Linked DNA regions of Homo sapiens. The protein of the gene in region 1 purifies or fractionates together with the protein of each later gene. This does not show direct contact. Each region holds a gene or a part of one and is shown in the gene's direction. Other genes may lie near its edges.

Region 1 (3,500 bases):
CTCAGTAGATACCAGGTAGGGTTAAAGGAAGCTTCAGCAGACACCATGTGGCCCAGAATCCATGTGAAACTGAAAAAGCCAACTGCCCTGATAGTTCTGGTCTAATTACTTCTGACAGCTTCTGATGCTGGTGTCCTCTCTCAAGCCTTACTGTTTGGAAAACAGAGAATCTACGTTCAGACCGGGGAACCCAAGCTCTAGGCAGGCTTTGGGTTTCTGTTACATGTTAAACAGGCTGTGGGTTTTTTTTTTTGTTTTTTGTTTTTTGAGTTGGAGTCTCACTCTGTTTCCCAGGCTGGAGTGCAGTGGCGCAATCTCGGCTCACTCAACCTGCACCTCCTGGGTTCAAGCGATTCTCCTGCCTCAGCCTCCCGAGTAGCTGGGATTACAGGCATGTGCCACCACGCCTGGCTAATTTTTGTATTTTTAGTAGAGACGGTTTCACCATGTTGGTCAGGCTGGTCTCGAACTCTTGATCTCTGGTGATCCACCCGCCTCATCCTCCCAAAATGCTGGGATTACAGGCGTGAGCCACTGTGCCCGGCCCAGGCTGTGGTTTTTAACCTGTGAAAGTTTGTCCAGCTTCCTCAGTTTTAGGTTTTGTTTGCAGGTAGCCACTCCAGTCCTGACTTTATTATTTTTCACTCTTTCCTAGAACCCACGAGAAGCTGATCCCATGACTAAAGTGCAGGCCGAACTAGATGAGACCAAAATCATTCTGGTAAGCAGGAAGATGGAGAGCAAGCCCAAGAACTGAGGCGGGGGTGCGATTTCCACTGGCCAGGCATGCACAGATCCATCCTCGTTTTAATATAATAGTAACCACGGCACTCTCCAGCAAGTGGGATTGCCCACCCCTTCCCCCACCCCGGGCATCAGACTGTCTTTCCTATACCCTTCTCTTGGTTAATGGCACCCATTGTTTCTAGGGGACCAAGCTGGGAACCAGTGGAACCCTCAAGTCTCCCTTCCTCATGGCTACTGCCTGTCTGACCATTTACTGGGTTCCTAGGGTTTGGCTTCTGAAGACCTGGATTCCCACCCTGGTGCCTTTGTTAGGGTTTCGGGTGCCTCCACACCCCACAGGTGCCTCCCCTTGCAGCGTTTGCATTGAAGGTGAACAGATTGAAGCACCGTGCACTGACCACAGGGCAGCTTCTGGAATATGGGCCCAGGGTTGTCACATAGGCCCCTTTGAAAAGAGCCAGAACCCTGCATTTTGAGCTGAAATCTCCTGATTTGTAACTGTTGCTTCAACTCTTTTTTTTTAAATTTTTGCATACAAGTGGAATGTAAGCAGCTATCTGTTTTTCTCAGGTTTTTCTCTTACAGCCTTTGCCTCTAAGTGGTCCCCTTGCCTCCTGCTCACCTCCAGTCTGTCCACCAGAGAGTAGTCATTGATCTGCACAACTTAGAACCCTTCAGCAGCTCTCAGATCCGCCCCAGGATAAAGTGCAAACTAACTCACAGTCTCCTGACTGGGCCCTGTTCTCTCTTATACCCTTTCTTGCCCAGCTCACACACAGGCGCCTGAAGGTTGGGCCTTTCTGACCAGATGTCACAGTTTTGTCACTGCTTGTTTACATGTCTCCCTGACCAGCGTATGAGCACTGGGACATCTTTCCATCCTGCTCATGATACAGTGCCTAGTTTATACCATGCTCAGCAGTTGATAGATACCTGGAGTGGATTGAAACCCACATACAAAGCTTTACCATTTACACAGGCATAGCTTTAGTGTGTACATCAGCGTCTCCTGGGGTTGGAGTTGTTGGCCTGCGATGGAGCCTGGGAACCTGCATTTTATAAAAAGCATCCCAGGGGCTTCAAACACAGGTGTGCTGACTGCACTCCAAATAACGTGGCTTTGGAATGAACGATAGATGTGAAAGTCTCATGGTATCTGTGTCTTTTGAAACCTTGTGAGCTTTCTTACCACCTAGGTGGCATTTCTCCGTTTTCTCCTCAAGCCATCTCTTTCTGTTGCTCAAGTCCTAGTCTGAGTACCATGACACCTGGGACACCCGCTGTTTCTCCTCTCCCCACGGTGGGGAGTGGATGAGTCCTATTCACCCAGCCTCATCTAGCTGCAGTTGTAAAATCTAGATGATTGGTGTGCATATCTGAATCAGTTAACTTTCTGTGTTAAAAATTTGAGTCGCTCAGCTGTGTGTAGGGATGAAGGACATTCTTGCTGGCTCCTTGTTCTATGGCGCTTCATGTGTGCATCTAGCTGCTGCAGCAGTGGCCATCTGAGGAGAGAAGCGAGCTGCTGCTTCCTGAGGGCCCTGGCAGCAGAGCTGCTGGCTCTTGTGAGGTCTCCATCTCTAGACCCCTTCCCATGGGGTCAGTGTTTTCATTTCCTAAGTCAGAGTTTGTAGTGATGACATTTAGGACATAGCCCATTTAGAAGGCAGGACATGTTCTGTCATAGTGCTGTCTGGTATATATTTGGGGCATGTGTGTAACTTAGAATTTTCTAGGAGCCATATTTTAAAATGATAAAAGGAAAATAGGTAGAATTTAATTTAATTATATATTTTACTTAACGCAGTATATCCAAATACAATTTTTCCAACATGTAATCGGTATAAAACTTGTTTTTTTTTCAGTATAAAACTTACTAATGAAGCATGTGTGAGTTTGCATCTGAAATCTGGTGTGTCTGTACTCAGAGCGCTGCTCAGTTTGGACTTGCCTCACATCAAGTGCTCAATAGCCATTTCCCACCGCCTTTTGTTTCCTGTGGCTGCTGTCAACAGAAACCCTCAAATATTTGCTTTTAACAGATAGCTCTGTGGGCCTGGCTGGTGTCTTTTGGGGCTCTGAGTGTCTGTCCCAGGCCTCTCTCCAGCCTCTGGTGGCTGCTGGCCATCCTTGGCATTCCTTGGATTAGAGGTGCATCACTTCAGGCTCTGCCTCTGCCGTCACGTGACCTTCTGTGTGTGTGTTTCCGTTTCTTACCAGGACATCAGTCATGGAATTAGATGCCACCCTAATCCAGTATTACCTCTTCCTAACTAGTTACATCTGCCAAGACCCTATTTCTAAATATGGTCACATTCAGAGATTCTGGGGATGTTAATTTCTGGGATGCGGTTGGGGTTGGGGGGTGCGGTGTGGGTCACTCTCCAACCCAGTACAATCATATAGTGCCCAGCTACTCTTTTTTCCAAAGCTCCATGCACACGCACATGTGCGTGCACACACACACACACACACAAATGTATATATAAATGTGTGTGTATATATATATATGAGTTTTCCTGGAGTGCTGGTTATCTAAGCCTGTGCTGGGGACAGCTTTTTGGGAAGTCTGCTACATCCCAGTTAGATCTTCTAGATTTCACGGGAATGTCACCAGGTTCTGTTCCATCCACTTGGACAGTAACTATTCTTGGACCGAGTCTCGACACCTAGAGGTGAAGTTTGTGTGTGTTGGAGAGGAACCCAGGTAAGGCACTTTCCCCCATGACTGAAATATGAGGGGCTCATGTCAG
Region 2 (3,970 bases), on another chromosome or scaffold:
TCACAAACTCCCCACACCAACTCTGAGGAAAATACTATTATTTCCACAGAGCAGGAACTTCCACAGAGAGGTTAAAATAACTTGACTAAACCTGCCCAAATTCGTAAGCGGCAGCCAGAATCTAAACCTAGATAGTCCGGTCCCGGAGATAGGTTTTTAACCACAAAGGCATTTTCTAAAATTGTGAAAGTACAGAAGCACAGGAAAGAGACATTTTGGCCAGATAAGGGTTAAGGGAAGGCTTCATGGATGAAGTGGCATTCGCTCTGGGTCTTGAAGGTCAGCAGATGGAGAGGGCTCCTGGGGAGGAAGGACTCTAACGGGGAAGGAACAGCCTGACGAAGAGGAACTTTGGGTACCAGCCAGCTGACGACAGCAAGATCTGGTCCGGTGCGCGCGGGAGGAAGCTGGGAAGGGACGTCGCGCCCAGATCCCGAGGTCCTTGAGGACCAGGCCCTCTCTGCAAGGAATCGGGGAGGAAAATCTCAAACTATTAATAGAAGAGCGGCAAAAAGGAATTCGTGCGCACCCCTCTCTGTTGGAAGGACCTTCCCTGCCAGAGACCAAGGCTGGCAGGACAGGTATACTTCCCTCAGGGGGAAACAGCCGACAAAGGTGGTCAAGGTCGCCCGCGCAGGCTCCGGAGCTGCACGTCCTGGACGAACACTCCCGTCCCGAGCACAGACGCTGGGTATTTGGCTGCCAGCCCGGGCCCGCCAGGCCGGGCCTGGCACCGCCAACACCTGCTCGGCGGGAACAGGAAGACCTGTGTTCGGGAACTCCCTCCGGCCACCTCCCCGTATCCTCCTGGCCCTCGAAGGTCGAAAGGTGGCCTCTCAGGGACACCCGCCGCTCGCTCGGCTCCTCCCCTCAGCCGGGAGACCCAAGGAATAACAGCCTCTGCGATAGGAGCACGCTCTACCAATCAACCGTAGTCTTCGCCCACGCCTCAGCCGGAGGAAATTGCATTGGTTGCATCATTCTCGGCAGCCGATAAATTGTTTTCTTGGATTGGCTAATAGCGTTCCTTCTCCCCTGTGCCTTCGTCGTCAGAAGCTGGCGATTGGTTAATCGCGTTGCCAAGCTTTGGACGCGGCTCGACCATTGGAGGCCGCGGGCCCGCCCCCGCCGGCTAGGTGAAGGTGAGTGTCTCCTCCAGTCGCAACGGCCAGACCTGACCTGCCAGCTCCGGGCGTGGGGTGAAATCTCTTGATTCCTAGTCTCTCGATATGGCACCTCCGTCAGTCTTTGCCGAGGTTCCGCAGGCCCAGCCTGTCCTGGTCTTCAAGCTCACTGCCGACTTCAGGGAGGATCCGGACCCCCGCAAGGTCAACCTGGGAGTGGGAGGTAAGGATGTAGTGCTCTGGAGTGTGAGCAGCTCGGGGAGTGGAGCGGACCCAACCCAGGTCGTGGAGACTGTGGGAGAAGCCGAGGCCCAGTGTGGCGCTGCCTGAAGAGGGCGGCGCCGGAGAGGAGGCTGGATCCACGAAGGCTTCCTAAAACCTGCCCATTTTACAGATGCAGGTGTGGAGTCCCTGGAAAGGGGCGATGTGTCCGAGGCCGCACAAACCAGGTGTAGCAGCCAAGACACAAACTCAGTCTTTCCGATTCCCCATTCTGCCTTCTTTATACTGCATCCTCCTAAGAAATGAGGCTGCCGGAGCTTGTAGAGAGAGGTAGAAAAATAGGAAGCCTGATAGGCTTAGGGTTCTGGTTGCTAGGAAATGGGTAAAGGAGAACTTTTAACGCTAGAAAGCTCTGTTCTGAGTCGGTAAATATTTGAGTGACCACCGAGTATCAATCAGCCACCTTATTAAGCTTTGTAGGGGGAGACTGAGGCTTGATTTTGCCCTTAAGGATTTAAAAATCTGCTGGTGTTACACAATGCTTTGAGACAGGTTAATGCTGCCCCCGGGGGGTCTGGGGAGATGGTTCTGGCCGTCACAGATGTGGTAGGAATGGGTAGAGATGGTGGAAAGGAGTGGAGAGAAGTATGGATGGTAGAAGCTTACTTTCCACACATCCTATCTTCATTTCTTGATTCAAGTGATTCTCTTCTGTACCTTGGACAGCTCAGAGCATGGGCCTCAGTTTCCCCATCTGCCAAGAAGATTTATATTGGAGTGCCTCTCAAATTTTTTACCCCTAACCCTCTCTGATGAATTTGTTATTCTTCTCACTATCATTTGGATGTTTGAAGCCCCACAGACACTTATTTTCTCCATTTGGATTTTGCCACGTGCAAAGACCAGCCAGAGAGATGAAAATGGGTAGGATAAAGTCTTATGCTAGGTAATAGACTTAGAATAAAAGGACTAGAAATTGTGGAAAGAGAAGGTGGAATCATTTTGTAGCAGAGTGTGACATGAAGGACGCTCAGAATCAGGTTTCTCATAGATAACGTTTTGTCTGTGCATAGCATTTGTTAAAAAAAAAAAAAAAAAGTCGGCCGGGCGCGGTGGCTCAGGCCTGTAATCCCAGCACTTTGGGAGGCTGAGACGGGCGGATCACGAGGTCAGGAGATGAGACCATCGTGGCTAACACGGTGAAACCCCATCTCTACTAAAAATACAAAAAAGTATCCGGGCGTGGTGTTGGCCGCCTATAGTCCCAGGTACTCGGGAGGCTGAGGCAGAAGAATTGCTTAAACCCGGGAGACGGAGGTTGCAGTGAGCCGAGATCGTGCCATTGCACTCCAGGCTGGGCGACAGAGCGAGACTCTTTCTCAAAAAAAAAAAAAAGTCTTCACTAAGGAGTATGGGGAGGGGTAAGGAAAAATCCATTGAAAAGTGATGGTTTGTTGAAGCGGGTAATTTGTTGAAGCTGGATGATGGGTACATGGGCATACGTTATATTATTCTCTCAGCTTTTGTATAGGTTTGAAATTTTTCATCATAAAGCTTTTAAGATAAGTCAGTACTACATAGTTTGGCCCATTGAGGGAAAATGATGTTTTTAGCAGGCAACTGAGTGGGAGAAATGTTGAAAGATTGCCTCAAATTGAATTTGAATGGACACCATTTGGTCTCTTAATTTAAAACCAGTCCAAAACCTCCAAGCGTTTCTTTGCAGCGGGATGTATACAAAGAACTAGTATTACTGTCAATCTAAATACATCTTTTTAAAACGTCAGATTTTGCCTGCCACGGTGGCTCACGCCTGTAATCCCAGCACTTTGGGAGGCCAAGGCAGGTGGATCACCTGAGGTCAGGAGTTCGAGACCAGCCTGGCTAACATGGTGAAACCCCATCTTTACTAAAAATACAAAAATTAGCCAGACGTGGTGGTGCACACTGGTAGTCACAGCTACTTGGGAGGCTGAAGCAGGAGAATCGCTTGAACCTGGGAGGTGGCGGTTGCAGTGAGCCAAGATCACGCCATTGTACTCCAGCCTGGGTAACAGAGTGAGACTCCGTCTCAAGAAAGAAAGAAAAAAAAAAACAAAAAACCACGTCAGATTTATTTTATTAATTCAATTTACCTTTGAACTATCTTACAGGGTTTCTGTGAGGATTAAGTACATTTAAAGTGTTTATAGCTGTATTTGGCACATAAGTAGGATTTATATAAGTGTTAGGTATTACTGTTATTGTTGTTTTGGCATTTCTTTGAGTGATTCTCATAAAAGATATTGAATAAAAATTTTCAGTTCAAGAACTGCAAAATGAACTAATTTATGACCTTGGTTCAGAAATAAACTGCTCCTGCAGAGAAAAAGCACCCCGACAGCACAGGCCAGAAGCAATGGACTCAGAATTGGAGTCATTGACTCAGACGGCCACCTCAGCTGTGAAGGTGCCTTTGTCATGTTTTCCAGGAACTCCAACTCCTTACCATGAGCAAATTATTTATGCATGTAATCTCACTGAATGCTCACAACTCTGGAGGGTGGTTTATTACTATTACTGTTTAGAGGCAAGGAAGCCGAAGACTGGAGAGGTGAAGCAATTTGCCCCAGGTCATTTGACCA
Region 3 (3,500 bases), on another chromosome or scaffold:
TTTTGTATTTTTAGTAGAGATGGGGTTTTGTCACGTTGGCCAGGCTGGTCTCAAACTCCTGACCTCAGGTGATCCGCCTGCCTCAGCCTCCCAAAATGCTGAGATTACAGGCATGAGCCACCGCGCCCGGCCCACACAGCTAGGATTTTAACCTAGATAATATGACTCCACAGCCCATATACTTAGCAATTATATATATAATGTTAAGCATAGCAATCTCAACATATGTATGTTACATGCTTGTGTAACAGTGACTCTTCCTAGTCGGCTAAGAATGGGTTACAAATGCCTCAGGATAGCTATGTCCAACCTGGCTGGAGGCTCTCAAGGGCTGCACCCAAGTATCCTCCTGCAGTGAGCAGCTGACTCAAGTCACCACAGTGTGCTTGCTGTATAAATGTTATTTTTTGTGAGTGTTGACAGGAAAAAGTTTAGGATGAAACACTGTGTTCAGTACATAACACTACAGTTGCAGTCTTGTCACTAATTCTTGTAAATACCGAATTTTTAAAAAATCTCTTACTTTTTTTGTAACAAAGAGTATAAACTATAGGCTTTATTTCTTCTTCAGTACTAGTACTACTGAAAACACAACTGCTAACATAAAAGGATCGTTTTCTAATTTTAGACACTTCTTACTCGGGAGAAGTTATCTTGATTACCCAGCTTTTTTCCTTATAGTTTCTTGCAGAACATAAATTATTAGGAAACATTAAAAATGTGGCCAAGACAGCTAACAAGGACCACTTGGTTACAGCCTATAACCATCTTTTTGAAACTAAGGTGAGTATTGTTAGATTCTGTTAGCAGAACATCACTTTTGAAATTTTATTTCCAAAAAAGATGTTTAAAATGCATTGATTTGTTGAATGTGTTGGAGCTTTTCCACCTGTAATTTTTCTGAACTGTTATCATAAGTGGACTAGCTGTCAAATCTAGCAAGGCTAATCTGCAGTATGGCAGAATGTTTCAGTATTTTCAAAGGGTCTGGATTTTGTAGCTTAAATTGAGACAACAAATTCTTAAGTCCACTGAAGTTATAAATTCATTAGGTCAGTGGTATTACCGTATTACTTTAGCATATGGTGTATATTAAATGTATTTTGTTGTTGTTTTATTATATATGTTAAATGTTATATTGAAAATAAGTTTCCATTTCACTAATGAATTTAAAGTCTGGTTTAGATTTAGGCTGAGCTTTACAAAAATACATTTTAAGACATTCTCCCACATTTGTTTACTATGAAATGAATATCTTCCACAGGAAAGAAATCTTTATTTAGGAGTTATTTGAATAGTGCTTATATCTCTGGGTATGAGTTGGCCTTTCTAAGGTCATGGTTCTCATTTCAGAATTTATATTGTAAGCTGGTTTGAGGGTAATCATTTATTGTTTAAAAATAAATTATGAGCAAAATTCTTTCTTTGCTCTTCGTTTCCTTAGACCATTTATTCACAATTGTGTTATACAACCTATATTTATTATGCAGATGTTCATTTAATTGAGAGGCTGAAAATCTTGATGTTGCTTCTTGGTTTTAGCCTGTCCTGGGTATGATGTTACAACATTTTCCTTACAGCGTTTTAAGGGTACTGAAAGTATAAGTAAAGTGTCTGAGCAAGTAAAAAATGTGAAGCTTAATGAAGATAAACCCAAAGAAACCAAGTCTGAAGAGACCCTGGATGAGGTCTGTATATAATTATTTTTTTATTTTATCATGTGGAGTCTAGAAATTGTATTTATTTCTTTATTATTTGCACTAACTTCTCATAGTGAAGGGTGGTTGAATACGACCACTTTCAATGAGCCAAACACTTAATGTAGTGGGCCATTTCCCTTAGGTGTACTGGGACAGAAATAATCCTAAGAACTAGTGCTTTACAGTTATTAGCCTATTCTGTGAAACACTTCTGATATTGTATTTAATATCGCCTCCACATCTGTCCAGACCTTCTGAGCTTTCAAAGCTATTTTAAGGCCTTGATTCTATAGCCAAGTTGGACTAAGTGAAATACATTTTCTTTTGATTATTTTTAGCTTTTTCTAATGTACATGGTGTCCCTGGCAATAGAAATAATCCAGGCTTGGCTGCAGGATGTGGGTTCATCTGTCTCAGTTTTCCCAACTCAGGTTTTATACTTTGGTACAAAGGTTTGAAGAACCAGATTAATTCATTCCTGCAAATTGACAGCCTTAGTAGAGCTAAGATCAGCTACTAAGAACTGACTTAGCAGAGCTGAATTGATTATAATCTTGTCATTTCTGATAATACCTTACTATCTAAGCTCACTCATTGCCAGCAGTCTTAGTATCAGTGATAATAATCTATTTTTAGTTCTTGTAAAGAGGTGAGGCTATTGATGACAGTGTAGCTTTTGGGTATTTGTGGAAAGTGTAAGTTCAGTTATACAATTATAGATGTTTATTTGATTAAAGCTAGTTAATTTTGCATGATCTTTTCCTATTGGCTAAAAAGCACAAATTAATGTTTATAGGTATATGTGCACACAAAGCAGTTTTAAAGTTTATCACAATTAATATTTAATAAATGTTATATCTATTGAGTAGCTACTAAGGTAAATGGAGCAATTATTATTGAAGGGTTTCAGAAGCAACTGGCAACATAGTTCACCCTCCAGGAAATTAGAATGAGGATGGTTTTAGGAGACAGATAATATTTCATTAAGGAGTTAAGAAAATAAAAGGTAAATTCATAAGAGCTAGAGACAATCTAGAGCAAGCTTATGAGGGTCCTAAACTCTATCATTTTATTTAAAACCTCTTCGTTTAACTGGCCAGCTTGAGCCCATTTATGTACTGTGACTGTTTTCCTAGCGTCCTACATTCAAAAGCCTCTTGTCCATTTCCTTGCTAACCCTCGTTGTCTACTCTCTGTCTTCATGCTTTGGGACTGGAGAGCAGGCATTATAAACATATAATCATAAAACCTTTTATTGAGCCTGGTATAAATTCATGCTTAATATTAGCCAAGCATGTTTTCTAGTTTCATTGCTACTCAACAACATTTATACTATCCTTTGCCCAGTTCTCCATCACATTGCTCATTGCTCACATAAAGTATTTGACATTTTCTCACAAATTCTCAGTCCCTTCTTACTCCTTTCTCTTTTTTTGTTTTTGTTTTTGTCTTTGAGACAAAGTCTCACCCAGGCTGGAGTGCAGTGGTGCCATCTTGGTTCACAGCAACCTCCCCCTCCTGGGTTCAAGTGATTCTCCTGCCTCAGCCTCCCCAGTAGCTGGGACTCCAGGCAGGCGCCACCATGCCCAGCTGATTTTTGTATTTTTAATAGAGACGCAGTTTCTCCATGTTGGCTGGGCTGGTCTTGAACTCCTGACCTCAAGTTATCCGCCCACCTAGGCCTTCCAAAGTGTTGGGATTACAGGCGTGAGCCACTGCCCCTGGACTCCCTTCTCATTATATGCTCCTGTGTTCTGTAGTGCCAAAATGTGAATGTCTAGCCATTGCCATTCCCTTCTT
Region 4 (3,327 bases), on another chromosome or scaffold:
ATGACTTTTGGTGTGTCAGTCCACCTGTTAAAGTGTGTTTAATTCTTCTATGTATGAGTTTTTATCTATAGTGACTTTAAAATTTTCTTTTTAAAGTTAGCACTTGAAATTTGTTTGTAGACACATAGAAGAGTTGACTGGAGCCTCAGCTCAGTAACTTGTCGGTTGTGCCCCTTCTGTCTTTTTGGTAGCATGGAAAGTTTTGTTTGTGTTGTGTATATTGTTGACATCTGATAATTTGTGCAATTTTATTTTTAACTTAAAAGATGGGAACCAACAAATGTGCCAGCCAGGCAGGTATGACAGCTTACGGGACTAGGAGGCATCTTTATGATCCCAAAATGCAAACTGACAAACCTTTTGACCAGACCACAATTAGTCTGCAGATGGGCACTAATAAAGGAGCCAGCCAGGTAAGCAATACCTTTTTATACGTGTACAAGAGTACACTTACCTTATTTTTATTAACCAGAAGTTTAAAGTAGGTATTTTTTGTATAGTTTATTTAGAGTATATTCCTTCAGGAATGTGGACTTTGCTGGGAAAGCAAAATAATCAAAAGACCTTTTCGATAGCAGCAAAAGCATGATGTGTCTCGTGGTTTTTGTTGGCAGTTAGAACAGCTGGCCTTTCTACCTAGCCAGCAGAAAAAAAGATATGTTTATTACAGTGTTCTTGCTCCAAAATCCAAGTAAAATATTGCTCATTTAAATGCTGACTTTTTTTTTTAAGGAGCCCTTAATTAATAGGTAAAATTACCTGGTGTTCCACTAAGAAGGATTTAACTAGCATTCCTATTAGATGTGTCAATATAAGGAGATGGAAATGCAACATGGTGAAAATACCAGTATACCACATCCAAGATAGAAATATTTCCTTGTTAAAAATAGATCACCAGCACCTCAGAAGGAAGTTCAACAACCATTTGAGAACAGACAGGTCTCACATCCAACAACAGCTGGGATAGGGTTTGAAAAACATTTTCTTACCGAGTCCAAGGGAGATTTATCAAACTTTGCCCTTATGGAACACATCCTACCGGGTGCGGCATTATGTCTCTCATAGCTGCCACTCACGTTTACTTTTCTACCCACTCTGAACCTGGAAGTGTGTGCTTGATGTAAGTAGAGAGATGAAGTATGAGTTACTGTACTCTGAAAAAGAGGGGAGTGGCTGTGAAGTGGCTGGTTCTTCTGTATCTCAGCCTTTTGAAAAGACTCAAGTCCTTAAGATCTGCTCAACATAGTTTCTGTTGAATATATTATAAATTTTTGAAATTGGTAACCCAGATAATGTATGTGGTCCCCATGGGCATTCACATGGAACTTTCTGGTGTGGAAGCATTATGATTTCACATTCTTTATGTCTCATTCTCTCTTAAATCCAGAGTAGGTAGTAATGTCTCCATTTTGCAGTTTGAGAAACCTAAAGCTAAATTTACGTGTTTGAGGCCACATAGTAATTTTATAGCAGAGCAAGGATTTTGAAGAAAGGTCTCACCTAGCTCAAAAGCCAATGAATATTGCTTCATGGAAGTGATTCGGTATCAGGATATTTTGGTTAAGCTAGCTTTACCCCTGAACCAAATGAAAGTTCATGTATTACTGTTCATATTCAATGTGAATTCTATAATTTATAAATTATTCACAAGAATAGATTCTAGCTGCTGTTTTAACTTTTATACTATGTTCTAATACCAGGCAGGGATGTTAGCACCAGGTACCAGAAGAGACATCTATGATCAGAAGCTAACATTACAGCCGGTGGACAACTCGACAATTTCCCTACAGATGGGTACCAACAAAGTTGCTTCCCAGAAAGGAATGAGTGTGTATGGGCTTGGGCGGCAAGTATATGATCCCAAATACTGTGCTGCTCCTACAGAACCTGTCATTCACAACGGAAGCCAAGGAACAGGAACAAATGGTTCGGAAATCAGTGATAGTGATTATCAGGCAGAATACCCTGATGAGTATCATGGCGAGTACCAGGATGACTACCCCAGAGATTACCAATATAGCGACCAAGGCATTGATTATTAGATCCACACAGAAGGAGCTCAGTATTTAGTCCTTTGTTTTTATTCAGTGAGAACCAAGCTAGCCTTGAGTAATTTTTATCTTGTCTTCCTAAAACACTATTAAGCTTATTGTACTTTTAAGAAAAATTGCCTTACGTACATTCCTTTTTCCTTTTTCTGCCTCTTCCCTCAATAGTTGCCTTTTAGTGCTGTAATAGTTAAATCCTACAGCATAATCAATAACTCGCATATGAAGTAAAAAGGAATACTGTGAAAGGGGAGTACTCTTGTACAGCCAGTTCTTTTATGCAAAAATCTATGCATTTTTACAATCTTATATTAAACTGGTATTTTCAAACAATAGGAAACTTTTTTTTTTTTTTTTTTTTTTTACAGTTTAGTGTATCTGGTTTCTACATGGAAGACTAAACTCATGCTTATTGCTAAATGTGGTCTTTGCCAACTAAATTTAAGATGCAGCATTTTAGAAATTTACATATCAATGTTTCTACAGTATTGTTTGCTAATTTTTAAATAAAGTCATGATCAGTGTGCATTTGTGATTATATGTGTACTCATTCTCTTACCTAGCGAACAAGATCTTTTCAGAGTGGTGTTTCTAAAAGAGCATGTACAAAAGTGGCCTGTGGACATTTAGGCCTGGGTGATGCATTTGCTCTTCCTGTTTGTGCCAATGTATCAATGTAGAGTTGCTCTGTTTTCTTCAACTGTATTTATTGCTGCATTTCTCAGCATAAACTTATCCCATTGTATTTTTTATAAATAAATATTTTTTTTGAACTTTCATATGAACCACAGGCTGATTATTTTCTGGCTAGCTTCTAGATAGGTAGGGTCAGATTTTTTTTTAAGTACCTTTTTCCTAGGTACTGTTACAAGGTACATTAACATTTTATTTACTTCACACAACACTGCACTCTATGCTTAAGGAGATTGAGGCTTAGGAAACCATTACACATAGTAAATGACAGAATTCTAATCATTTTCTGACCCTTGCTTATTTCACTGACTTGGCTGGCCCAGATTCATCTTAAATTCAACTTGGAATAATCTTAAAATCTTTAGGAATATTGACAGGAGGGGTGGGGAATTTTCCTATCTTAGGGTAAGTAAACATGAATAAGAAACATGCTAGGTCAGCCATAGGATGTGCTGCTTGGTAATAAGCCAGGGTTTATAGTGAAACATAAACCTTCAGTCCTGACAGAGGGAAGGACAAACAATAGCTAGGTGTCATAGTGACAAAAATGCAGTCACTAAAAGAAAATTAGTAACTCACACTTTCC

Evidence for each region. Proteins that work in one complex are often made in the same cells at the same time.
Region 2: the proteins of YKT6 (region 1) and GOT1 fractionate together in Homo sapiens (co-fractionation; one large-scale study listed by BioGRID). This does not show direct contact.
Region 3: the proteins of YKT6 (region 1) and FKBP3 fractionate together in Homo sapiens (co-fractionation; one large-scale study listed by BioGRID). This does not show direct contact.
Region 4: the proteins of YKT6 (region 1) and CNN3 fractionate together in Homo sapiens (co-fractionation; one large-scale study listed by BioGRID). This does not show direct contact.

The regions. Positions count from the first base shown.
Region 1 is NC_000007.14:44,207,478-44,210,977, forward strand, and holds part of YKT6 (synaptobrevin homolog YKT6), read left to right. Parts: coding exon 1-15; intron 16-655; coding exon 656-721; intron 722-3,500. UniProt on the Homo sapiens protein: Vesicular soluble NSF attachment protein receptor (v-SNARE) mediating vesicle docking and fusion to a specific acceptor cellular compartment. Functions in endoplasmic reticulum to Golgi transport; as part of a SNARE complex composed of GOSR1, GOSR2 and STX5.
Region 2 is NC_000010.11:99,427,825-99,431,794, reverse strand, and holds the start of GOT1 (aspartate aminotransferase, cytoplasmic), read left to right. Parts: upstream 1-1,170; 5' UTR 1,171-1,229; coding exon 1,230-1,347; intron 1,348-3,970. UniProt on the Homo sapiens protein: Biosynthesis of L-glutamate from L-aspartate or L-cysteine. Important regulator of levels of glutamate, the major excitatory neurotransmitter of the vertebrate central nervous system. Acts as a scavenger of glutamate in brain neuroprotection.
Region 3 is NC_000014.9:45,127,982-45,131,481, reverse strand, and holds part of FKBP3 (peptidyl-prolyl cis-trans isomerase FKBP3), read left to right. Parts: intron 1-681; coding exon 682-783; intron 784-1,580; coding exon 1,581-1,688; intron 1,689-3,500. UniProt on the Homo sapiens protein: FK506- and rapamycin-binding proteins (FKBPs) constitute a family of receptors for the two immunosuppressants which inhibit T-cell proliferation by arresting two distinct cytoplasmic signal transmission pathways. PPIases accelerate the folding of proteins.
Region 4 is NC_000001.11:94,896,457-94,899,783, reverse strand, and holds the end of CNN3 (calponin-3), read left to right. Parts: intron 1-266; coding exon 267-413; intron 414-1,700; coding exon 1,701-2,042; 3' UTR 2,043-2,827; downstream 2,828-3,327. UniProt on the Homo sapiens protein: Thin filament-associated protein that is implicated in the regulation and modulation of smooth muscle contraction. It is capable of binding to actin, calmodulin and tropomyosin. The interaction of calponin with actin inhibits the actomyosin Mg-ATPase activity.